2 separate regions of the Homo sapiens genome follow, and region 2 is linked to region 1. The links come from fine-mapping of genetic effects on gene expression. A gene starts in region 1. The other region holds a variant in brackets. All regions are shown on one strand. Distances are from middle to middle.

Region 1 (12,724 bases):
GCAGCATGTGCCTGTAGTCCTAGCACTTTGGGAGGCTGAGATAGGAGGATCGTTTCAGCCCAGGAGTTTGAGACCAGCCTGGGCAACATAGTGAGGCCCTGTCTCAAAAGGAAAAATAAATAAAGAGAAAGAAAAGAAAGAACTAATTAGCCATCAATGGAGAATTCTGGTTAACAACTGATTATCTTCATTTACAAATAAAGGTAAATAAAGCGAATCCAGCATTATTCTGCCTTTCATAAATGAACTGTGCCACTGGAAAACCAAGCAGTAGATGAGGCAAAGTGTATCTCTATAGAAATACATCAGTTAATAAACAGAGGACAGAATTAGATTATTGCTGTTTTAGAACACCTAATAAGCCAAAATATTTAGGTCCTGAGCATCAACAGCTGCTAACATCAGAAAAAGAGAGATAACCAAATATTCAGTGCCTCTGATGAAGACAGATGCCCCACAGTGTGACATATTCTAGCTGAAATAAAATAGAGCTGACCAAGCAGGGAGAGTTGCATTATCCAATAGAACTTTTTGTGGTGACAGAAAAATTATATTCTGTACTGTCCAGTACATTAGCCTCTGGTCACACATGGCTACTAGCATTTGAAATGTCGCTAGTAGGACTGAAGAACTTAACTGTTATTTTGAGACAGGGTCTCGCTCTGTTGTCCAGGCTGGAGTGCAGTGGTGCAATCTTGGCTCACTGCAATCTCCACCTCCTGGGTTCAAGCGATTCTCCTGCCTCAGCATCCTGAGTAGCCTGAATTACAGGTGCATGCCACCAAGCCCTACTAATTTTTTTTGTATTTTTTTTTAATAGAGTCGGGGTTTCAACATGTTGGCCAGGCTGGTCTTGAACTCCTGACCTCAGGTGATCCGCCCGCCTCGGCCTCCCAAAGTGCTGGGATTACAGGCATGAGCTATGGCGCCTGGTCTAATTGTTAATTCTTAATTGACTATGGCTGTGATAGTCACATGTGATACTGGATGCTGCAGCTGCAGATCCAACTATCCGTTTAGAGAAAACCTAGGGGACTGAGAAACATTAGGCACATGGTGATGCGCTCAGCAAAATCCAGACTGTTGGGGACTCTACAAAACAAATCACCCATTTCTTCAACAATTAACTTGATGGAGGGAAAATGTATGAAATTAAAAGAGGCTCAAAAGACATGCCAATCAATTACAATGTGTGGACATTATGTGGACCTGATTAAGCAAACTGGAGGGGAAAAGTATTAATTTATGAGACAATTAGTAATGTGAACACAATTGGTAATGTGGGTGTGATCATGAATTTTGGTCTTTATCCACTAAACGCACATTCTGAACTATTTATGGTTGAAATGGTATGATGTCCTAGATTTGCTTCAGAATCATGCATGGGGCAAGGGGTGGGAGTGTGGCTGGGCAGGACTGGCCATGGGTTAATGGTTGTTGGGGCTGGGTGGCAGATACGTATGACTATGCCTTTGAGATTGTAAATAATACAAAGTGATGGGGGTATGGGGACTACTCCGTAGACACACATCTGCACCACTACAAGACTCGATAGAGAGCCGGGTAAAAGGCCAAGCATACTTTTGAAAGAATCTAAACTTAATTTATTTTGAAGAACCCATGGGAGAGGACAAAAAGAAAGAACAGAATAGGAAAGGGTGAGAGGACAAATTCACTTGGTACTCCATACTTGGACCTGGGTCCTACCAGCCAGAGAATCACGTATGAATACTATCAGCCAACTTCAGAGTTACTTACTTTCTAATAAGCCTCCAAAGGACAATGGTGATTAGTATTTCCTGGGTTTCTCTACCCCGCAGCTGAAGACCTGCAGATGGATCCAGCACAAAAGGGACCTGCCATGCACACTCTCTGGAATGTACATCATCTTCTCACCCTTATTTGTTTGGCAAATTACAGAATTCTCAGTAGTAAAGAGACAATTTCACAATCTGCCCTGAGGCACACCGTCAAAAGGCAGGTAGGCTGGGAAGGGCCAGCCACATTTCCTAATCTGCACCTCGGACTCCTTTTCCAGATCCACCCATCAACACGATCAAGTTAGTGAATCCCATGTCCTTACAGCCAACAAAATGTTGGGCATTAAAACTTGCTGTATGTCACTGTCAGCTAACTTCCTCTTGGGCAGTTTACACATGCACAGAAAGCTAAACACTTTACACCCACTATCTCATTTAATCTATGCAACTCTTCTAGGAGGCTGATTCTTTGAGTCCTCCACTTTACAGATCAAGGAACTGAGGCTCAGAAGAGATAATGATCCATGAACACAGCCGTTAAGAGGGACCCAAATGGCAGGGCGCGGTGGCTCACACCTGTAATCCCAGCACTTTGGGAGGCCAAGGTGGGCAGATCACCTGAGGTCAGGAGTTCAAGACCAGCCTGGACAACATGGCGAAACTTCGTCTCTATTAAAAATACAAAAATCAGCCAGGCTTTGTGGTAGGTGCCTGTAATCCCAGCTACTTGGGAGGCTGAGGCAGGAGAATCACTTGAACCTGGGAGGCAGAGTTTGCAGTGAGCTGAGATTGCGCAACTGTACTCCAGCTCCAGGCGACAGAGAGAGACTCTGTCTCAAAAAAAAAAAAAAAAAAGAGGAACCCGATTGAGGTTTTCCTTCTTACATCATCCAGAGCTTCTCCTCTGCCCAGCAGGAGCACCCATATTTCTTGGCTTGGCCCCTTCACCATCTCACCCTGTCCTGGTTACATTTCCAGCTCTTTACCGCCAACTCTCTCCCTGACCCCAGCAAGCCCTGTTTCCTATCTTCAGCCACCAGAGCTTCATCCTTTCTATGCTCCAGCTGCGGGACTCAGCCCACACTGCCCTCAGGCCCACCCGCCTCCCTTCTCCCCAGCCTTCAAATCCACATCAGGACACTTTCCCCACTCAAATCGGTCACGTCTTTGTTTGGAATTCTGGTTTCACATTCACTGTCCTGCAGCAGAGTTAATAATGTTTGTGTCTCCCTATTAACCTGAATACTATCTATGGTTATTGGGCACATACCATGTTCTACCCTCCACTCATTTATCCTCACGATGCTATCAAGTAGGTATCATTATCATCTTACAGATAAGGAAACCGAGGCTCAGAGGGGTGAGCCACTTGCTCAAGGTCCACAGCTAAGAAGTGACAAAGCCAGAGCTTATATGATTAACCGCTACTGCCAGATGATTCTGGAAGGAACACCAGGGTGGGAGCATTTTTACCTCCTGCTGCCTTGCACACCCCAGGTGTTAGACGGGCAGAGTGTTGCTTCTCTGTGCCAGGCAATAGCTCAAACCTGCCCTTCTTGTGGTCCTGGGAGCCCACTGCCTAAGAAACTAATTCTTGGCTGGATGCGGTGGCTCACGCCTGTAATCCCAGCACTTTGGGAGGCTGAGGCAGGCGGATCACCTGAGGTCGGGAGTTCAAGACCAGGCTGACCAACATGGAGAAACCCTGTCTCTACTAAAATTACAAAATTAGCCGGCGATGGTGGCGTATGCCTGTAATCCCAGCTGCTCGGAAGGCTGAGGCAGGAGAATCACTTGAACCCGGGAGGCAGAGGTTGCAGTGAGCTAAGATCCAGCCATTGCACTCAGCTAAGATCCAGCCATTGCACTCCAGCCTGGGCAACAACAGCGAAACTCCATCTCAAAAAAAAAAAAAAAAGAAAGAAAAGAAAAGAAAAGAAAAGAAACTAATTCTTAGAGAAATTGTGAGTTCAGCATGCCTTGGAAAGAACTTTATAATTATACAACGTGCTAAGTCACAGGCAATTTGGTCAGTCATTTGAAAACTGCCAATGCCATGGCTGATAATAATTCTGGAGGCTTGGAGCATATTAACACCAAAATGTTTCCTTTTTGGGGGTAGAGGCAGAAAGAGGGAACCTAAACATCCCCAGTAAATAAAAATTCCCCTGGAAACTATGGAAAGAAGACTCTTAACGGTTCAGGAGTGAACTGTGCCTCCCGCCCCCCTTCCCCCAGCACACAGGCAACTAATCTAGGAAATAAGATTGGTTTACGTCTTCCTTTAATCCAGGATTCCAACGGCCCTGTGTGCCTGAGGCAGAAGAGTTTGCCTAAAATATTTGTTAAGAGACTGGATGAGAATCTGTCACTTTCTCTCCAGGGGAATCTGGGCAATTGGGGGACAGAGGGGCAAACTAGCTGCAGAGGCTCCCAAAACAACGTTGCAATTGTCCTTCCAGCCTGGTGATAAATATGCAAGTGGGGCACTTTGTAGAATCTCCCGAAGGGCAGAGCTACCAGCCTCAGGCAAATTTTTCCCTCCCACTTAACCCCACCTGGCCCGGAAGAGCCTCAGGCCAGCTGACTTTGAACCTCACCCTCACACTTACCGCTAAGCTGCCGGCCCGCACGGTTTCGGCAGCTTCTTCTTTAAAGAGGTCTTTCCTTTGGATCCCAGCTGAAGCCTCAAACCTCAGTTCAAAACCAAATGCGCCTCAGCCCACCCCGGAGTCAAACCCTGGGAATACGCAATGTGCATAGGGGACCTCTCCCAGGAAAATGAGGGGTCCTTTCTCAATCCACAGCAAAGCCCAGGCTCTCCCTCCCCACCGCCCTCTACTCCCGGTCTGGGTGGCAGGAGGGCACCGGAGAGCCCTGGAATTACCACCTGCACCGGGGGTCTAGGGGGTGCACAGTGTAGCACTGCGGCCCACCAGGCTAGAAAGAGGGGCCAAGTGATCATAAACCACCACCTCCTAGCTCCAGCTGGCTGAGTCAGTGGAATGGGATTCCTAAACCTTGGTGGGTAGCGGATACCTTTGAGCAGACCATCATGGAAGTTCTGCCCGAAAGCGCAGGTGGGCGTCCAGAATGTTCGAGGGGGCCCCGAGGCGCGACCATAGATGGGAGGAAACACTCCAATCCACTGGGGTAGGGGCGCTCGAGAAATCTGTAGTTGAACCCTTTTACCCATCAATTTAATTCAAGATTGGAAAGATGACAGATCTAAAGTGCCGTGCACAAGCCTCCTGTCTGACAGACACTGGGAACCGGTTCATGTTGGGAGAGGCCCACTATGTGTCAAGCTGCCGCCCAGGTCCAGAACATAAGCATGGGGGGTGAACTCTCAGAATCGCGGCGCCAGGAACTGCGTCCCAGAGGGTGGAATTTCTGAGAGCGCTGAGGCTTCCTTTCCAACCTCAGGAACTCCGACGGCCTTGGTTATTCTACAGGCCTAGCGCACAGAACGGGCTGCTGGCGGAAGGCAGTGATGCCTGTGCCTTTTCGGCAGTTCCAGAGGCAGCACTCGGCATCAGGCGGGGCCACCGGGAGGACGGAGCCCACTCCGGGAACCGGCCGCCCCTGCGCAGCAGCTACCCTGCGGGCGGGAGGACGCGCCGAGGCGCCCTGGCCGCCGCCCAGGGGCAGGTGCAGGAGCGGCGCGGCGGGCGCGCTCGGGGCGCGGGTGCCGGGTTGCGCAGGCGGGCGCGGCAGGGAGGGGCGCCGGCCTCGGGAGCCCGACGCCAGGGCGTGGTGCAGGTGGCGGCGGGGGCAGAGTCGACACAGTACCTTGATTTTCGATCTGGCGACCGGGCGCTGCTTGGTCGCCAGGTGTCCATCGGGGCCCTCGGCGTCGCCGGGCTCGGGGGTTTCGCTCTCGGGGGCGTGCGGGGACGAGCTGCTCTCTGCTCCTCCAGGCTCCCCCGCGCTGCTGCTGCCGCTGCCGCTGCTGCTGCCGCCGTCGCTGCGGCAGTCCTCGGGGGGGTCGTGGAGCAGGCGGCCTAGGCCCACTGTGGAGGGAGGGGCCGCGCCCCGACACACACACTCGGCGTCAACCCGCACGCCCGCGGCAGTTTGACCTGCGGGCGGTGCTGCCGCCGCCCCGCCCCGGACCTGGGCACCTCGCCAAGTGGGCAACGTCGCGGGGGAGGCCAGTAAGCCCCGAATCGGCCCACAGAGCTAGCTTGGGGTGCTCGGAGCCTCTTTCCGGTCCCAGCCAAGGCGCCCACGAGGAACCGGGCGGCCACGAGCGGCGGAGGACCCCGCGCGCCAAGTTTCCTCTCAGGGCGGGGGAGGCGGATCTGACCTCTCCCCAGCTAGCCCCAGAAGGGTTGGCGAGCCTTTGTGCACCCCCATGAGGACGTGAGATTGGGGGTAGCCTCTGCTGGCTTTCAATCCCTTTCCTGGGCCACCTTGGCCCGCGCTGCAGCCAACGGTCCCGCCGCCGGGCAATTAGAGGCTCCCACTACGGGGAAGGGGGCGCCTAGAGTCTGGGGCATCCCAGTCCCTCATTGCCTGCCCTAACCCGCCTAGAAGACCCCCGCGTGCCCCCCGGAAGAGGGGGATGAGGTGGGGAGCCCGCCCCTGCCGATGAGCAGAGAAGACCCGCCACCCCTTCCCCCACCCCGGGAGCCCAGCGCCCAGGCCCGGCCCCCGCGCGCGCTCACCTGGGATGTAGGTGTCTGCCCTTTTCTCATCCGGGAGCTCATCCCAGCTGCGGACCGAGACCCCCAGGCTCCTCCTCTTCACCAGGAAGACTTTGGGCATGGTGGGGTCCCCTCTCCCGACTGCGGCCCCCTCCTCCCGGCTGCTCCCCGCTAGGGGCAACGGCGGCGGCTCCGTCCCCGGCTCCCGGCGGCCAGAGCCCACCTTCCCGCCTCGCCTGCCCTCTTCCTCCACCCCCCGCCGCGGCGCGGCCCAGGCCTCTCCCCCGCACGCCTGGCGACTCCCAGCCTCCCGGCTCGGCGACACCTATGCCTTAAATCGCGAGTGAGACCACGCCGGGGAAAAAGTTTCATAAGGTGGAATAGAAAAGGCACCAGGAAACTTGGGACTGAGCATGCGCCCTGCAACATAACGGTGTCAACAAGCTCGCTACCTGTCCGACCGGTTCCGGCGGCCGGGGCTGCCTGTTCCAGCCCTTCCTTAGGCATGAATGTTTGCAAAAGAATTTAAAGTCTGTTCTTCCCCCTCCTCTTTTTAAGAAAGGAAGAACATTTTTTAATCAACCCCCGCCCCATTCCCCCATCACCTGCACCTCGAGGCGAGCTCTTCGAGGTAAACCCCAGGTTCGCCTCCCAGGGCACCCCTCCGGTGAGTTGGGGCCTCCCACGAGTTGCCCCCCTCCCCCGCCCGGTGGATTTGTCTTCGACGAGCCAGAAAATGGCTCAGTTCCCCTGGACCTTGTGGAGCCTTCCTGGGGCTTGATGAAATCTGGGCGGTCAGAAGGGGGAGGCGGCGGGAGACTTCCAAGGATTCTGATTATTAATAATGGGGGGTGGGGGCTTAGGGGCTTAAGCTTTCCATCAGCTACAACACCCCCCCCCCATAAGCAGTAAAAATAAATTTAAAAATTCGGCATCTTTAGACCACGTTATTTTTCTGACTAGTATCATACAATCTAAGAAAAACAAGCCTTGCCCCGCCAAAGCAGCTTCTCCTCACAAGACGTTGCACCCCCCGAGAGCCCCCTCACCCCAAGTAAACACACAATAGAAACAAAAGCCAGGAGCATATTATGCAAATGCAGCTTCAAAACAAGCCCCCAATCCTCGCCCACTCCCACCGTTGCCTCTCCTAACCACCCGATCCCCAAATTCTGAGACTGGGAAATACCTTTCCAGGAAGCTAGCATAGTGAACATTGGCTACATCTTCTAGCCGCCCCTACCGGGGAGGTAGGAAAGCTTTGCATTTATTATTATATCTGTTTGTTCCTATCAACCTTTATGCCTGGAGGGGAGAGGGAGAGAAGGAGGGGGAGTTGGTAAAATATGCCAAGTTTGTAAAGCAGTTGTGCTCACGTTGCGGGGCGCGCTGCCCTTCCCAAGGCCTTGTTCGGGTGCGCCCAGGACAACCGGCACAGCCTCTTGTGTCGCTGCGGTCGCCCTCCTCCAGGAGGTCGTCAGACGTGTGCCAGCTGCCGGGTGCTGCGGGGGCGCGTCTGGTCAGGGATGCCCTGGAGCCCAAGGCTCACCCAACAGCCAGCCTCACCTGTCTGTAACCTGACCCTCCGCGCTCCCAGCCTACAGGGCCCGGGAATCAACACAGCGGTTTTCCCTGTTCCCTTCCGCCCTGAATGGCCCTTGGGGACACAACCGCCTGGTAACGGATTTCTCGGCGCTACTGGCGGACTCGCGCGGCGCAGGGAGCCGGGGCGCAGCTCTGCCGGGGCTGCGGGCGGGACCGGTGCGCGGCGCCTCTAGGTCTGCCCTCAAGGAGTCACCCTCTCTGGACTGAACTCTGAACTCCAGCTTTTCTCTAAGAAAAACCAGCTAAGAACGAAAAAGACTTTGATCCCGGTGAGCCGGAGGAGGAGGAGGAGGAGGAGGAGGAGGAGGAGGAAGACATTTCTGTAGCGGTGCAGGAAAACAAGGCTTCTTGTCTATGAGGCTGATGGGGCAGCTTCCGGGAGACTCTGCAGATGTATTTTTATCCACCAACAAACGGGATTTGCTAGAAAGAAGGAGCTTGGGTGAATGGAAGAGTAAAAATGAAGTACAACTATGAAGTTACAGAATTATTCCCAGTCTTTAAAAATCTTCAAAACTTCACTTCGTTCAGAACTTCCAATTATACAGAAGAGGCTGTCAACTCCATTAACAAAGCTTTTTTTTCCTTTCACTGGATTTCAAACCAGTGAGTGTCTTGACTACTTTGCCTATTTGTATTATTTTAAAAGATTATAGGATGATGAGGTATAAGGCTAGAAACCTCCAAAGCAATGCAACCTTTATAGGTTTGGGGATGAAGACTTAACAGGATAACAACCTTTTTATTCTATGGTCGTTGGATGCACACCTACTATATTTGCTGGGTGCTTCCTGAGGAGAAAGGAATTTAATGTGTTTTATTTCTCTCTTTTTTCTTGATCAGATGTGATAGGGGTCTATCAAAATTATTAACATGTACAAAGAACCAGCTTTTATCTTGGTTGACTTGCCTCCATTGTAAGGTCGGTTTTCTAAGTATTATGAGAGGAGTTGATAGAGTATCCCAGAAAGCAGGATAAGAAGTGAACCCAATTCTCCTTTTCTTGCACTACTATTATATGCTTATACACTGTTGGTGAGAATGCAAATTAATTCAGCCCCTGTGGAAAGCAGTTTGGAGATTTCTCAAAGAACTAAGAATAGAATTACCACTGGACCCACCAATCCAATTACTGGATATACAACCAAAGGAAAACAAATCGCTTTACCAATAAACACTTGTGTGTTTATTGCAGCACTATTCACAGTAGGAAAGACATAGTATCAACCCAGGTGCCCATCGATGGTGGACTCAATAAAGAAAATATGGTACATATACACCATGGAATACTATGCTGCCACAAAAAAGAATGAAATCACATATTTGCAGCAACATGGATGCAACTGGAGGCCATTATCTGGGCAAATTAACTCAGAAACAGAAAATCTAATACTGTAGGTTCTCAATTAGAAGTGGGAGCTAAACATTGGGTACACACAGATTCAAAGATGGGAACAGTTAACACAGGGGATTTCAAAAGTGGGGAGGGAGAGAGGGGGAAAGCCTTGAGAAACTACCTATCAGGTACTATGTTCACTATTTGTTTTTATTTTCATTTTATTTTTGAGACAGAGTTTCCCTCTGTCCCCAGGCTGGAGTGCAATGGTGAGATCTCAGCTCACTGCAACATCTGCCTCCTGGGCTCAAGCAATTCCCGTGCCTCAGTCTCCCAAGTAGCCAGGACTATGGGCATGCACCACCACACCTGGCTAATTTTTGTATTTTTGGTAGAGACAGGGTTTCACCATGTTAGCCAGGCTGGCCTCGAACTCCCGAGCTCAAGTGATCCGCCCCCCTCGCCCTCCCAAAGTGTTGGGATTATAGACATGAGCCACCACAACCGGCCTGTGTTCACTATTTGGGAGATAGGATCATTGGAAGCCCACACTTCAGCATCATGCAATTTACCCATGTAACAAACCTGCACATGTACCCCCGAATCTAAAATTAAAAAAGAAAAGAAAAAGTAAATAATGCTTTAAAGCTTTTTCACATTATTTCCTAAATACCTTTATTTACATTCATTTGGCAATATTATTTGTCCCATTTTTTAAGAAGGAGGGAAAATAGGCTATGAGAAACTAAGTACCATTCAAGTTCTGCTGGGCGCTGTGGCTCACGTCTGTAATCCTGGCACTTTGGGAGGCCAAGGCAGGCAGATCACCTGAGGTCAGGAGTTCCAGACCAGCCTGGCCAACATGGTGAAACCCCATCTCTACTAAAAATACAAAAATTTGCTGGGCATGGTGGTGCACACCTGTAATCCCAGCTACTCGGGAGGCTGAGGCAGAAGAATCACTTATACCTAGGAAGTGGAGGTTGCAGTGAGCCAAGATTGCCCCACTACACCCCAGCCTGGGTGACGGAGCAAGACTCTGTCTAAAAAAAGTCTCGCTGTGTTGCCCAGGCTGGAGTGCAATGGCGAGATCTCAGCTCACTGCAACCTCTGCCTCCTGGATTCAAGTGATTCTCCTGCCTCAGCCTCCTGAGTAGATGGGATTACAGGCGCCTGACACCACACCTGGCTAATTTTTGTATTTTTAGTAGAGATGGGGTTTCACCATGTTGGCCAGGCTGGTCTCGAACTCCTACCTTATGATCCACCCGCCTCAGCGTCCCGAAGTGCTGGGATTACAGGTGTGAGTCACTGTTCCCAGCCCAATTATTCTTCATATGCACATCCTCATATCTCATTTGCAACAAAGTCAGTTTAACTTATTTATTAAATAACAAACGATCTGCATAAGTTAAAAATATATAAAAGTAGACATTTATATCTGAGCCTCTTATTACATTAAGTACAAAATATACTTTTGATTGTCTTGTCAAACTGTAGAGATGTGTTGCTGAGATAGTGCAGGTACGTTTGGTAGAGTTGAGTGAATTCTGGGTGTAGCTACTGGCCTTGAAATAGATTCATTTCCATTCCTTCCACCTGGGATCGTGGCCTCTGCCTTATTTGGACGGAGCCCTCAGTATGAAAGCAATTTATCTGGCTCATATTACACAATGTGTTAAATACCTTGTTACCTCTTTAAATATAGACATTTTGGTCATAGTCAAAGTTGAATACTCAGAACTTAAAAACACACACAAGATGTTAATAAAAACAATTTCAATTTTAAAAAAAGAAGAAATGAATCCAATTCTTTACAAATCTCAAGACTGAAGTTGGAAGAGACAGGAGACATAATGTGGTCCATACCCCGCCCAATATTGGGGGTGAGGGGTCTGTACAGCATCCTTGGTAGGTATGTATCTAGCCCTGCTTGAATACTTCTAGTGTTGGGAAGCTCACTGTCTCAAAAAGCAACCTATTCTCTGGTTAGACAACAATGATGCTAGAAAGCTTTTCTTTCTGCTTGTGGAAATCTGCTTTCCTGCCCTTCCATCTCCCCTTTTATTCTGTCATCCAGGGCTGCTGAGACTCCCCCTGTACTCCCTCCCCCTGGTAGCTCTTCAAATTCTTGAAAGCAGCCATCTGCACCCTCACTTAAGACTTCTTTTCTCCAGTAATATATATTCAGGTTGAAAGGAGGCAGGTACAAACCTGCTCAGTGGCATCCCTGGAGCACACAGCAATAAGGAGAGGGTAAGATGTTGTTGAGAAAATATTCCTAAGGAAACTTTATTTAAACTTTTTTTTTTTTTAGACAGAGTTTCGCTCTTGTTCCCCAGGCTGGAGTACAATGGCACGATCTCGGCTCACTGCAACCTCCGCCACCCAATTTCAAGCGATTCTCCTGCCTCAGCCTCCCGAGTAGCTGGAATTACAGGCATGCACCACCATGCCCGGCTAATTTTTTGTATTTTTAGTAAAGACGGGGTTTCTCCATGTTGGTCAGGCTGATCTTGAACTCCCTACCTTAGATGATCCGCCCACCTCGGCCTCCCAAAGTGCTGGGATTACAAGCGTGAGCCACCGCGCCTCCCACCTAAACTTTTAATTGAAGTATAGTACAGTATTAGGAAAATGATATATTTTTACCCACTGAACTCACTAGTGGAAAAAGCACCCAAGTACAAGCCAAGGGTGCCTGCTCTCACCACCCCACTCACATTAGATTGCTTCCTTGCAGGTACAGCAAGGCAAAAAAGAAGAAATAAGAGTATAAGGATTATAAGGGAAAACAACAAAACTACTATTGTTTGTAGTCAGCATCACTGTCTACGGAAAACCCAAAAGAATCTATAGATAAATTATTAGAATTAATAAGAGACTTTAGCAAGATTGCAGTGTAGAAAATCTGAGTGTGGGCTGGGCACAGTGGCTCATGCCTGTAATTCCAGCACTTTGGGAGGCCAAGGTGGGCAATCACAAGGTCAAGAGATTGAGACCATCCAGGCCAACACGGTGAAACCCCGTCTCTACTAAAAAATACAAAAATTAGCTGGGCATGGTGGCGCATGCCTGTAGTCCCAGCTACTCGGGAGGCTGAGGCAGGAGAATCACTCGAACCCAGGAGGTGGAGGTTGCAGTGAGCCGAGATCGCACCACTGCACTCCAGTCTGGCGATAGAGCGAGACTCGGTCTCAGAAAAAAAAAAAGAATCTGAGTGTGTAAGGTTTCAGTGTCAATTAAATTTCTACATGCCAGCAACTGTCAGAAAAATAAAAAGTCTAATGAAAAATGATTTAAAACACAACAAAAATACAAAGTCCCTTGCAATTGATTTTTTGAAAATATTGTGCAAGCTCTTTGTATATAAA
Region 2 (12,724 bases), 840 kb before region 1:
TAAAACCAATGTAACTGGAAAAGTATTTTTACTTTCTATAACTAACTCACCTGCTTTCCCTAAAGAGTGCCTCCTACTAACTCCAGAGCAAAAGTACTCCTGAGTATCTTTATGGGTTTGATATGTAGGTTTGGGACTGGAAATTTGAGGGGGCCTTGAGTTCCACGTCTCAGTTAATGAAATTCTTTCCAGACTAGCCAATCAGCACACAGAAAGCCCAGCAATAAAGGCAAGTAAAACTGAGTAATCTCCAGAAACTTTCAGATGCCATGGGGAGGATTAAGATTTCTCCAGGCCAAGCCCAGTTAGGGTTTGGAACAACTCAATTCGGGTCCCAAGGACTTTAATAAAATCTTCTGATCTCTGGGTCCTTTTTATTTATACATATATTCATGCATGCTTATTTAAAACCCAAAATAACCCTGTGGACCAGATAGCTCATGTATTATTTTTGATAAAAATCTGGGTACCAAAAGGTTTTGCAGTTCATCTATCACCATTTTGATAAGGGCGACAATCTGTGTCCCAAGATCCTTTAATATTCTTGTCATCGAACCCAGAGACTTTTCCAAAATCAGAATATGAAAAACAAGAGGTAGAACACAAGGTGAATTTCAAGTGCTTGCATTTCCAAGTGATGATTGTTGGAAATGTGATTGTAAGTCTGTACTGTGCTTTTTAATAACTTGATTGTGAAGCTGGAAAGACACTTCCTGCCTCTGCTTGGTGGTCTCATTAGATTACCATTCTCCTCAATGTTGGCAATTTATTGCAGTTTCCCTTTCCTATCTTTACACCATTCATTCCAATGCAGGGAAAAGATTTCAAAAACCACTGCAATGCTCCCATTAGTATTAAATCTTACACTTTAAATTTAAGTTATTTAATATCAAAGCTGTGAAACTGCCAGATGGATAGATTTTTCTTATTGATTATACATTTAATAATTTTATGAGAAACTACATATTTATTTCTGTTAAGAATGATTGGATTGAAGATAGCTTAAAGAAAAAAACAGCCCAAATTCCACCACTATTCAATACATTCATGTAACGAACTTGCACATGTACCCCTGAATCCATGAAAATAAAAAATAAGACATTTTTAAAGACCTATTTCTTTGGTTAGTGTTCTTATAATCACAGAGTAAAACCTTATTTTTAAGTTGTGATTTCTTCCACACGTAAAAAAAAATTCTTTGTTGTATCAGCTAATTTATTCTCATCCTATTCATTTTAATAATTTTTTCTCATACTTGGAACATATCATTACATAAAATAATCACCTTTTGCCCAGGATAAAGTAATAAAAGAATTAGAAGAAACTTAGCCCAAAATTTATGCACAGACATTTGGAGTATTTCCATCTTGTGAACTTCAGATTTATTTTCATCCTGGCCTCTTATTTTGAAATTGCTTCTCAGAGTCATCACATTTGTGCCTGTCTTCATGGTAAATTGTTTTTAGCATAGCAATATTCTCAGATCAATTGCTGGTGGTAGTAATGTTAGTATCAATCATGTACAAACACGTAATAGCTGGGAGACAAATGAGATCTACCTCTCCTTCTTCTTTTAGCCAGGTACAATTTGCTCTTCTGAAAGATGTCTTTACTACAAAGTAATATCCTGGGAAGTCTGAAAACACATCAGTTAGGCACTAAGAATTCTTTCAGCCCACCTGGTCTGCAGAGGCAGGAAGGTTCATCTCTGTGAATTGGCCAAAACCATGGACAGATCCTCCATACTACTGTACCAGATGGTGGTTCTGAGTGCTGCCATGGAGAAGGGTCCTATAACTTCTATCCTGCCTTCCTAAGCCTTCATATTTTTCTCCTTCAGTAAGTCCTTCTCCTCTTCCTCCTCCTCCTTGTTCTCCTCCTCCTCCTCTTCCACCTTTTCCTTTTTTGTAATTTCCTAGCCCTTAGATATTAGGATTTCCTGGTTGTTCACAATTTGAATTCTAGTTGTTTGGCCCTGAGGACTTTTCCCAAAATTGCTAATGGATTTTGCAATTTTTTCCTTGCCTCTTAATATGACTTTCCTTTGTATTATTTCTTTTGCCCAAATATATGTCACATTTTTGTTCTTCTAAGTTGTGTTCTTCTGTTTTGTTTTGTTTTGTTAATGTTGGCTACTGTGTTCACCCAGCCAGCCTCTCAGAAGGCTGTTTTTGTTATATTCATTACAAATGCTATACTTAAATATGTCATAATTTGAATGTAAATGTATCCCTTGTATAGCATGTGTCATATTTTACATAGGTGATATGTCAGTCAGGATGTCAGTATGAAAGAGTTGGTTTACACAGATGGAGTAATTGAGGAGAGTCTGTTGAGGGACTACTTACAAATGTATGGAAGAATAAAGCAAATGAAGCATAGTGAAGTCCATGGGACTAGCAACAGATTGGAGTCATTATCCTGCTAGGCCTAAAGAGACAAGGGAATGGCAAGGTTAATGGAATCTGGAGAGGGCTCCCTGATGGGAGCTACAGCATTTGGGACAGGAATGAAGTTAGTATGTAATGAGCCAGCAGGAAGGGAGCCTGGAAAATGAAAATCCTGAGATGACTCTCCCACCCAACTCTCCAAGTTTTTAAATGCACTTCCTGTTGGCTGAATCCAGTGGGAGGCCATAAAGCAATGAATCTCATTGATGTGGTCCATAAAAGCCAATCTCCAGGCACAGCACACAGTGGAGAACCATGGAGAGGAGATCTGAAGGGAAAACAGAAATAACCAGACACATATAGTATGCATTGTTGGATCTACAAAATAATGTTGAAAAAATTGCAGAGGCATTATAAACCCAATATGATCTATATTGTAGAACCCAATTTATCCATATTGACCACTTGGTACTTATAGCAAGTGACTGATCTTCAGGGGTATCTTGCTCAGATACTTTGTCCTCTCTTGAGGATTAAAGCCAATTATTCATCATGAGATTCCTCACTCAATGCCACTCACCACTCAAAACATTAGACAAACATGAATAGGTAATCGTCATTGCCTAACACTAGCATAGCTTGGAAAAACCTTCAGGTGAATATATTCAGCCATACGTGAAAAAGTAACATCATGTTCTACCAAATTTTTTTCCTCAATTTATTTGATGATTTATAACAGCTTTCAAAACTCCCCTTGATTGAGGTTGAACATAACCCTTAAAATCTGAAAACAGCCACAGTGCTGTGGTTTTTGACGAATCACCCCAGCTAAAAGTCGCAAGCTCATGCTTCTTATTTATTCATCTGTTCTTGCCAAGGAAATTTGCCAGTTCCTCCTGGTGCAAGTCTCCTGGGAAAAATGAGAGGAGAAATAATAAGGGCACCTTGAAGAAACAATGTAATTATACATAAAGTACTGTAGGCAATGATGAAAGTTTAGACGATTTTGCCATCTCATGGAATTAAGAACAAGGGCCCTCCTTTCCCTGACAGTAGAAAAAAGATATGAAGACACATTCTGGCACAGATATGAATCTTTTTAAATATTTACTTTTAATCACCATTTTAATCCTGGCATTTATATACAGCTACATGGTAAAATGACTGACTTCCCTCATGAAGGCTGAACCCATTATTTGGCTATGTCACCCCCATACTCTAGTAAGCTGAGTCAACCCATCATCAACAAGTCACCAGATACAAATTAGTGACATGTTGATGCTATTGGCTAATAGTTAACATTGCTGTTGGGCCCAAATGGATGAAACGTCCTTCTTAACATCTACAAATAAATAACCAATTCATCAAATGTCACTCTCTCCACCTGGCACTTAGAGGATACGTTAGTATAGCACCGTACCGTTTACAACATTTTAGCTTTCTAGTTAACACCTTTCAATATACTCCTGCTTCATAAATTGTCCCTCACCCTAACGCATTGTTCATTTTGATGAACAGATATTGTAATAGACATCTGTTGTTTTTATCTGTCCAACATCCTCGCACCTTTCTCTGGAAAAGAGCCCCCATATTTTCCTCTGTATAATAAAAACTTCTCCTTTCTTAGTCCACGTGGTTTAGCTTAGTCTAACATCCCATGTCAGCTCCAGAAGGCACAACACACAGGCCTGGCCAGGTAGCTGATTTCAATACTTGAACCCAATTGGGAAAGAATTGGTCACATGCTACAAGCCAAATTAATGAACTGCTATTCCAAAATTTTATAAACATTACAGGGGAAAAGAAACTTTCCTTTGGGGTTAAGCCATCAAAGAGGGTAATGGACTGTACAAGTGAAGATGGTGAAAGCTCTGCATCCAGCCATACCTGAATCTGTAGCCACCTCTGGACCCTTGAAAGATGTGAAACCAGAAATTTTCTTCATTGCTAAAGCCAGTTAGAGTTGTAGTTCTATCCCTTATAACCAAAAGAAAGAATTCTGATTAATGCAAGCAGGAAACTACAATCTGGAATGTGTCCAAAAATCTAAGGATAACATAACTAAATTCTGTTACCTATACTCAGGGCTTCATATGTTTGTATTATAGTTGAGTCTGAGCTGATCCAATTTTGAAAAAGATAAGCCTTCCTTCTGTTGTCATCACCTTGAACATTGCCATTTGTGTCAGATTCAGCCCCCAGCAATGCTTACCTAGCCATTCTTAAGAAAATATCCAAAAGCACGCCCACTCTAATCCTCCAGTACTCTAGGGGGAGGGTGGTTCATTTTTCCACGCACAAATGAGATTATTAAAAGTTTTTTTCTCAACATTTTAGAACAAGACTCCCCACGTGTATTACAGATATTAATCTTAAAAAATCAACCCTTTAAAATGGTTCCTGAGCCAATTGTTTAAATTATACTAACTTGTGAAAATACACTTTTTAATAAAAATATCTGTAGATGGCGGACCTTTCTTGGTATGTAGTTTAGATTACTGTTCAGCAAATATTCTCTTCCTTCACCCTCCCTATAAACAGTGTTGTGCTTGGCCATGTGATTTGCTTTGGCCAATACATTAGTAAACATGATGCAATAAAAGCCTTATTGTTTTTGCATGGCTTGGCTTGGATTTTAAGCTCCAGTATTAAGCCATGATAAGAGCACGTCTTGGGTAGGTAGCTGCTACCACTTTAGCCTGGGCTACAGAAAAAAATATGTGTGGAACAGACAAAAACCAAACTCAGCCTGGAACCTAAGCTGAGCCAACCTGTAGCATGAAGTAAAACTACTCAGCCAATCCCATTCTAGATCAGCCAAACCACAGAAAACTGTAATGTGAGAATAAAATACTTATTGTAAGCTATTACAGTTAAGATGATTTTTTCCACAGCACTACAGGGGCACTATGTGACTGCTATACTTTGTATAAATGCACTTCCATGTTTCATGTGCTATTGTATAACTCATGCAGCCAGTATTCCTTAAGAGATAGGAGATGCACAAGAGAAGTGGGTCCTTGATCTAAAATATTATCATTGAATGTCAGCCCTTAATTTGATCTCAGACACAGTCTAAGCAAATAATCCCCATCCCAATTTACGTTGAGACCAAGAGGGTAAAATGGCTTCCTTCAGGTCACATGACTAAAATGACCTAGAGCCGACGTCAAACAAAAGAATCTTTACTTCCAGCCTCACGATCTTCCCATAATGCCACTCTAACCTTTCTTGGGCATTTATAGATAAATTCCTACTTTACTTTAACATCTCACTGTCCTTGCATTGATAATGCTGTTTCCTCTAAGGACTAGCTTATAGCAAAATACAGAACATAAAAACTAATGATATTGGACGTTTGCAAAGGTTTTCACTACCAGAGAAGGGAGGTAATGCCAATTTGTCTATTCCTTGTCCTCAGAGGTAGGCAAAGAGTAGCTTTGGCCAAGACTGCTTCCATTTCTTGCAAGTCTGTATTCTGAAAGTCTGAGTTTATTTTTTCATCTATGCTAATAATTATTTAGAGAATATACTTCTATTTTCATCTTTTTG[A/G]ATGTGTTCTATTAAATACATTATTTTTAGAAGAAAAAAGAACTATTGGATACTAGGTTTAATACTTTGGTGATGAAATAATCTGTACAGCAAACCTCCATGACACTAGTTTACCTATACAACAAACTTTCACATGTACCCCGAACCTGAAATAAAAGTTAAAATAAAATAATAACAATAACTGAAAAAAATCGCTATAGCAAAATGAGCTGAGACCCTGTAGATCGTTTAAACCAGAAGTCATAAACTCAGATGACTTTAGGGTGAAAAAAAAATCTCTATAGCAAAATGAACTGAGACACTGTAGATTGTTTAAACCAGAAGTCATAAACTCAGATGACTTTAGGGTGAAAAAAAAATCTCTATAGCAAAATGAACTGAGACACTGTAGATTGTTTAAACCAGAAGTCATAAACTCAGATGACTTTAGGGTGAGAAAAGTAAAACACATGAGTCAGGAGGCGGGATGAGGATTCTTGTGAACTGAGCATATCAGGCCTTGTTACATGGGGTGGGGAGAACAACAGCTACTAACTAGCTAATTGTGACCAAGTTGCCAAATCTTTGGTTATTCCAAAAGAAGTCACATCTCTGAATTTTTATGGGAAATAATAATTTTTAAAGGATTGTGACTATTTTTATTGACACCACATTTCCTATAAAACATACCTGTGAACTGGATGTCACTGGTATGTAACTTCTGGCATAAATTAATGTACAGGGAATAACACTGCAATAAACATGGATGTTCAGATGTCTCCTCAACATACTAGTTTCATTTTCTTTGAAAACATATAACCAATAATTGGATTTGTGGATCACAGGGACATTTTATTTTTAATATTTTGGGGAACGTCCACATTGTTTTCCATAATAGCTGTACTAATTTACATTCCCACCAACAATGTATATGAGTATTCGTTTCTCTACATCCTTGCTAGCAATTGTTATTTTTTGTCTTTTTGACATTTACCATTCTCACTGGGATAAGGTGGTATTTTGTCATGGTTTTAATTTGCATTTCTCTGATGTTCATGTTGTTGAGCAGTTTTTCATACATCTGTTGGCCATATATATGTCTTCTTTTGAGAAATGTCTGTTCAGTCCTTTTGTCCATTTTTAAATTAGTTTATTTGATTTTTTGCTATTGAGTTGAGTTCCTTATATATTCAGAATATTAACCCTTTGTCAGACACATAGTTTGAAAATATTTTCTCCCATTCTGTAGGTTGTTTCTTCACTCTATTGTTTCTTTTGCTGGGCAGAAGCTTTTTAGTTCAATGTAATTTTTTTGTCTGTTTTTGCTTTTGTTGCCTGTGCTTCTGAGTTTTTATTTAAAAACTTCTTGTCTAGCCCAATTTCAAGATGCATTCCACCTATATTTTCTTCTAGTAGTTTCAGGTCTTACAATTACATCTTTAATACATGTAGAGTTGATTTTTTTAGATGCTGAGAGATTGGAGACTAGTTTCATTCTTCTGTATGTGGATATCCAGTTTTCCCAGCATCGTTTATTGAAGAAACTATCGTTTCCCCAACGTGTGTTCTTGGCACCTTCATAAAAAATGATTTGGCTATAAATGCATGAATTTATTTCTGGGTTCTGTATTCTGTTCCATTGGTCTATGTGTATGTTTTATGTCCATCAACAGGTTAGTGGACAGACAAACGGTTAGTGCTATCGGTCATGCGATGAATACTAACCAACAATAAAAAGGAATAAAATATTGTTACACATTACACCATGGAAAATTTCAAAATAACTGTGCTGAGTGACAGAATCTAGACCAAAAACAAGTACACATTATGTTATTCCCTTTATATAACATTCAGGAAATATGCAACCTCATCTATAGTGGTATAAAGCAAAGCAGTGGCAGACTGAGGATGGGTGGTGTGAAGGGGTGGGAGAAGTGTGGGAGGGAGCCATAGGAAAATGGCATGAGCAATCTTTTGGAGAAAATGGATATATTCATTATCCGACTGCAGGGATTATTTCACAGGTGCATACATATATCAAAACTAGTTAAATTGCAAAACTAGTCAAACTTCACAGTTTACTATATGTTAACTATACCTTAACAAAGCTGTTTTGAAAAATTAAAAAGAAATTAATGCATAGTGAATGTGTTATTAGAACTTTAAAATAATCTAACTAGGTCCTATATTAATTATAACATCTGGATTGTAGGATTTTAAAAGAGAAAATAAATCTACAAACTAGGATTGAGTGACTAATTCTAGAAATATCTGTTTGTAAGGGTGTACTTTTTGGTTCACTCCAGTATCATAAGACAATAAAGTAAATATCATATAGTGAAATTCCCTAAAAATAGACAATGCCACGTTTTGCCAAAACATCTATGAAAGTATAGAATATTTTCAAAAGAGTGGAAAATATCTGAGAGCACAGCCATAAATTTATAACTGTTCCTCTAGCATGTTAAGTAACATTATACATCAATTTATCTACTCGGGGTAGGTCGTTCAAACTGATACTAAATAGTGTATAATTATCCAAAGCATTCAGATCAAAGTAAGTAGTTTCCTAGAATCTTATGTTTCATTATAATGGGCAGAGTTTACCTTATAAAATTAGTGTACACGTTTGAATGTATTAAATTTTATTTTACACATAAAATTTTTATCTTTTAAAATTCCTGTTTATATTTGCTAACAAGGCATATACTTTGTTCTCTCTGAATTATTTCTGAGTTATAAGTAGTTTGAGAAACACAAAAAAACTCCTTGTTGAAGATAATTTCCATAATTATTTAAAAAGTACATTGAGAAAGATTTACTATGGTTTTTAAAAGATCATGAAAAAGGAAAGAGAAATAACACAAGGTAGAGAATTCATGAATAGATAATCACTTTCCGCAGACAATAAGCAATGTTCCAATAAACCCTGAGAAATAACTAATTACTTTTCTAAGTGAGCAAACATTATTCTGTAGTCCCGTAGACCTGAAAAGGAATCTAAAGATAGTGAATAGCAATGTGTTCCTAATTTTCAAAAGAAGATTAAAAGGGCCGCTCGTCCTCATTGTTTAGCTGCTTCAAATCCTATCAAAATAATAGAACCTAAATTAGCAAAAGAAGCAAATTTTCACTGTCCTGGAAAATAAGGAAGTGAGAAGTAGCTTTTGTTTGTGAAGAGATGATTGGTCTGAGTAAATTGGATGACTTTGATGAAATTACAAAAGGAATATAACCCAAAGCACTGTAGATTCAATACTTTGATAATAATAAACACTTGAAGCCATATAAATTCTCTTCACTATATTAATTTAAGATGGCTTAAATAATAAAAATCAGCTGAGAATTTTCAACTGAAGGAAAAACAGAGATAGGTTATTTAAGGAAAAGATACAAGTTGGTGAAAGCTATAGGAATTGGAGGTAGGACCAACTGAATCACAGTGATTTAGAAGTGGGTGCATACTGAGAAACTAAAATTTCCCAAGTATCTGAATTTTTAGTTATAGCAAATGTGAGAGTATATGTAAATACTAGAGGAAAATGAGGTGAGTTCTTGGAAAATAAGAATAGTCTGGTGGAAAAAAAAAGACTTGATCAATGCTGAGTTCAAAATTGGGCAAAGATCTGTAAAGTGGTAACGATATTTCAGAAAGCCTGCATATGGGCTGGAATGGAGGGAACAGACAGGGCAGGGTCTTTAGGAATAATCCATTGAAAGGGTTGACAGTCAATATGGTTTGGCTCTGTGTCCCCACCCAAATCTCATCTTGAATTGTACTCCCATAATTCCCACATGTTGTAGGAGGGACCAAGTGGGAGGTAATTGAATCATGAGGGCAGTTTCCCCATACTGTTCTCGTGATAATGAATACGTCTCATGAGATCTGATGGTTATTATAAGGGGGAGTTTTCCTGCACAAGCTCTCTTTTTTTGCCTGCTGCCATCCATGTAAGACCTGACTTGATGCTCCTTGCTTTCTGCCATGATTGTGAAGCCTACCTAACCATGCGGAACTGTAAGTCCAATAAACCTCTTTCTGTTGTAAATTGCCCAGTCTCACGTATGTCTTTATCAGCAATGTGAAAACAAACTAATACAACAGTACAATATGACAGTAGAGAATTGTTCCTACCTGATTAATGTACCATTACTGCATTTAAAATGTTTGCAATGAATGCAGCAAAAATGGCAAAGCCCAACCTGATTTTTAACAAGGCTGTATTTTAAATTGTGATTTTCAGTGGTATATACCCTATTTCTCTCCAGATTACACATCCCACACAATTGAAGAGAAATCAACAGAAAAATTAGATCTTTCTCCAGTAGTCCAAAGAATATTCAAAGGTTTGGGGGACTCTCCTACGGCTGCTTCTGGCTTGCTCTGTACCCCCAGTGGTAGGTTTTCCTTGGCATGATGCTCTATGAATCCAAAGTTCTCCTTTTAGAAGTACATCTAAATGTGAGTATCCCAATCATGCCTCAGGTGGTTTTGGTTTTTTAAAAAATCACCCAAGGTCTCTTGATTTCTAGTATTAAGCCATAAAATGGGAGAGTTCTAGTCTTGTTTTGCAGGACAACATCTTCAAAGAGACTCTGGGGGCCTGTGGCACATCTGAGCCAGAACCAAACACCCGACGTCATTGTTACAGATACAAAAGTAAATAAATGAAAAGAAGCTCCAGGTATTGGTGATTTTTATATCTCGTGCTGTCAATCTGTTTGTGTCAGTTATTATTTTTTCAAGTACACAAAACTGATAAATATGAGACCATTTGGGGGAGGTTACACAAAAATAAGTATGCCTGTTGGCCACAATATGTTATTAAATAGTATTGTGGTCCTCAGCATTTCTCAAACTATTGATGATGCTTCCTACATTACAGCGTATGTTTTCACAACTCTTTTGAAATTATAGACTTTGGCTCTGAGGTATCTAATCCAACAGTCTCTTTTCACAGATAGAAAGATAGAGACTTTGAGAGGTGCAATATGTTGGCCCACAGCCAAGTGGTATACATACCTAGTACTAGCAGAGCCTGCAATAGGGTCCCTGGCAACAGGCTTCTAGGTCTATCCTCAAAATGTGCTGCTGCCATTCTCTCTACTGTCCACCTTGACTATTGTTATTGGAAAAAGGAGTTTGAGAAATAGTTGTCTAAAAGAGCAATTTGTGTGCACACATGGGTGTGTATTAGCATTTCAAATAACAATGTATCAATAGATATCCAAGGGATAAATACATTTCCTCTTCCACTTGCTTACTACATTGTTGTGTATTGAAAATTTAGTATTTGAATAACCAAAAAAATTATCTTTCCATTTGCTATTCTGTCCTGACAATATTATGATGAGCTGTATTTTATGTAAACCACTAAAGAGGACTTATTTTAATTAGTCATTCAGGTTTTATATCATTTCTGGCCAATTTTACACAGTTTTAGTTATTTAAAATGTAGCTATATGAGATTCAACATTTACCAGCATTTCATATTTGGAAACTATTTAAGAAATGAAGTGGCCAGGCGCAGTGGCTCACGCCTGTAATCCCAGCACTTTGGGAGGCCAAGGCGGGTGGATCACAAGGTCAGGAGATAGAGACCATACTGACTAACACGGTGAAACATGAAAACCTTGTGTTATAATCAAACGGATGGACTATGAGGGGGTAAGCTGTTAAACAATAGAGTAATAGAAAGGGGGAACAAAGGCAGAAATGAGCCTCTGAGCAGTAGTGAGCTGAGGGGCCCAGAGTTGATCTGTTTCCCTTTATTAATACTTTCACCGTGTTAATACTTTTCCAGAAACCTTGCCTCCACCATGGCCCTAAGTCCTAACAGATAGCTTAATTTTCTTAGAGGAATTCAAATAACAATAATAAATAATGTCACATAGACTTCTAATGTTTTAATAAAAACCTTCAGCAACGCCCACATTTTTACGTGACAATTTTTTAAAGGGCTATGAGGGAGCCAACTATGTCAGCAAACAGACATGCTCTGAAGACAGGGTGGTCCATGGCATTCAAAGTGTATTCATTTCTACCGATGGTGCTTTTCTTGCATAGGTTCTGACTTGTGTAGATTTGGACTTCAAGCTAAAATAAAAAGAGAGGAATATGTGTATACATGAGAATGTGTGTGTAACGTGTCGATGGTATAAATAGTCTCTTCCTCTCTCTCTGAATTGCATGCACTTAAGCCCCTAAGAAAAGATCTCTTACCTCTTATCTAAGTAAAGCAGAATTTTGAGCTTTGAAGCTAAATGATACAATGAGATCAGTGTAAATACTCTTTAACACAACAATATTTGAGTAGCTTTGAAACAGTCGTCCTCATTTCGTTACATACAGAACGTTCGTGCTTCCTCCCTCTCAGGCAAGAAGCGGAGTCCGTCGTCAGCAGTTAGCAGAGTCCAGTGCGAGTGCACGTTTCTTAACCGGATAACTTAGTTGCCCCTGCCCCCCGTCGCTGCGCCCGAATTCGCCTCCAGTAGAAGACGTTCAGCGGGCGACTTGGCCCGGCGCCTGGGATCGGTGGCTATGCGTTCCCCAACTAGCACCCTCGCTGTCCTTGTGCAGTGGAACGTCCCCAGGTCTGAGAATGCACCTCCCGCCGTGTCCACCCCGGCCGCGTCTCTCCTGAAGGCAGATCTTGGAGGTGCAGCCAGGACTCCTAGAGGAGCCTCCTCCAGTCACCATCGCGGGTGGGGCGAGCCGGGTCTCCTGCTGGGCTTCCCAGCCGCTTCGCTCCGGACCTGCCTGGAGCCTACAAAAAACAAGGGCTCGTCCTTGCACTCTCGCC

Direction of the effects. Alleles are on the strand shown, and positions count from the first base shown. SD is a standard deviation of normalised expression in the study named.
For the expression in unexposed skin of the gene that starts at base 6,812 in region 1, allele A in region 2 goes with a lower level than allele G (moderate effect, 0.52 SD a copy in GTEx).

What was found. PIP is the estimated chance that this variant, and not a neighbour inherited with it, causes the effect.
Region 2: its variant is fine-mapped to the expression of OVOL2 in unexposed skin (GTEx, PIP above 0.99).

What each region holds. Positions count from the first base shown.
Region 1 is chr20:18,051,105-18,063,828 of GRCh38, forward strand. It overlaps OVOL2 (ovo like zinc finger 2), which reads right to left and starts at 6,812. Exons shown (of 4, transcript NM_021220.4): 1 at 6,431-6,812; 2 at 5,553-5,773. The coding sequence starts at 6,530. RefSeq lists enhancers at 2,389-2,889, 5,217-6,004 and a silencer at 5,406-5,495.
Region 2 is chr20:17,213,634-17,226,357 of GRCh38, forward strand. It overlaps LOC105372545 (a long non-coding RNA gene), which reads right to left and starts at 4,623. Exons shown (of 3, transcript XR_937290.2): 1 at 4,466-4,623; 2 at 4,278-4,367; 3 at 3,150-3,300. It also overlaps a transcript of PCSK2 not described here. The variant A/G (reference allele first, on the strand shown) is at 5,943.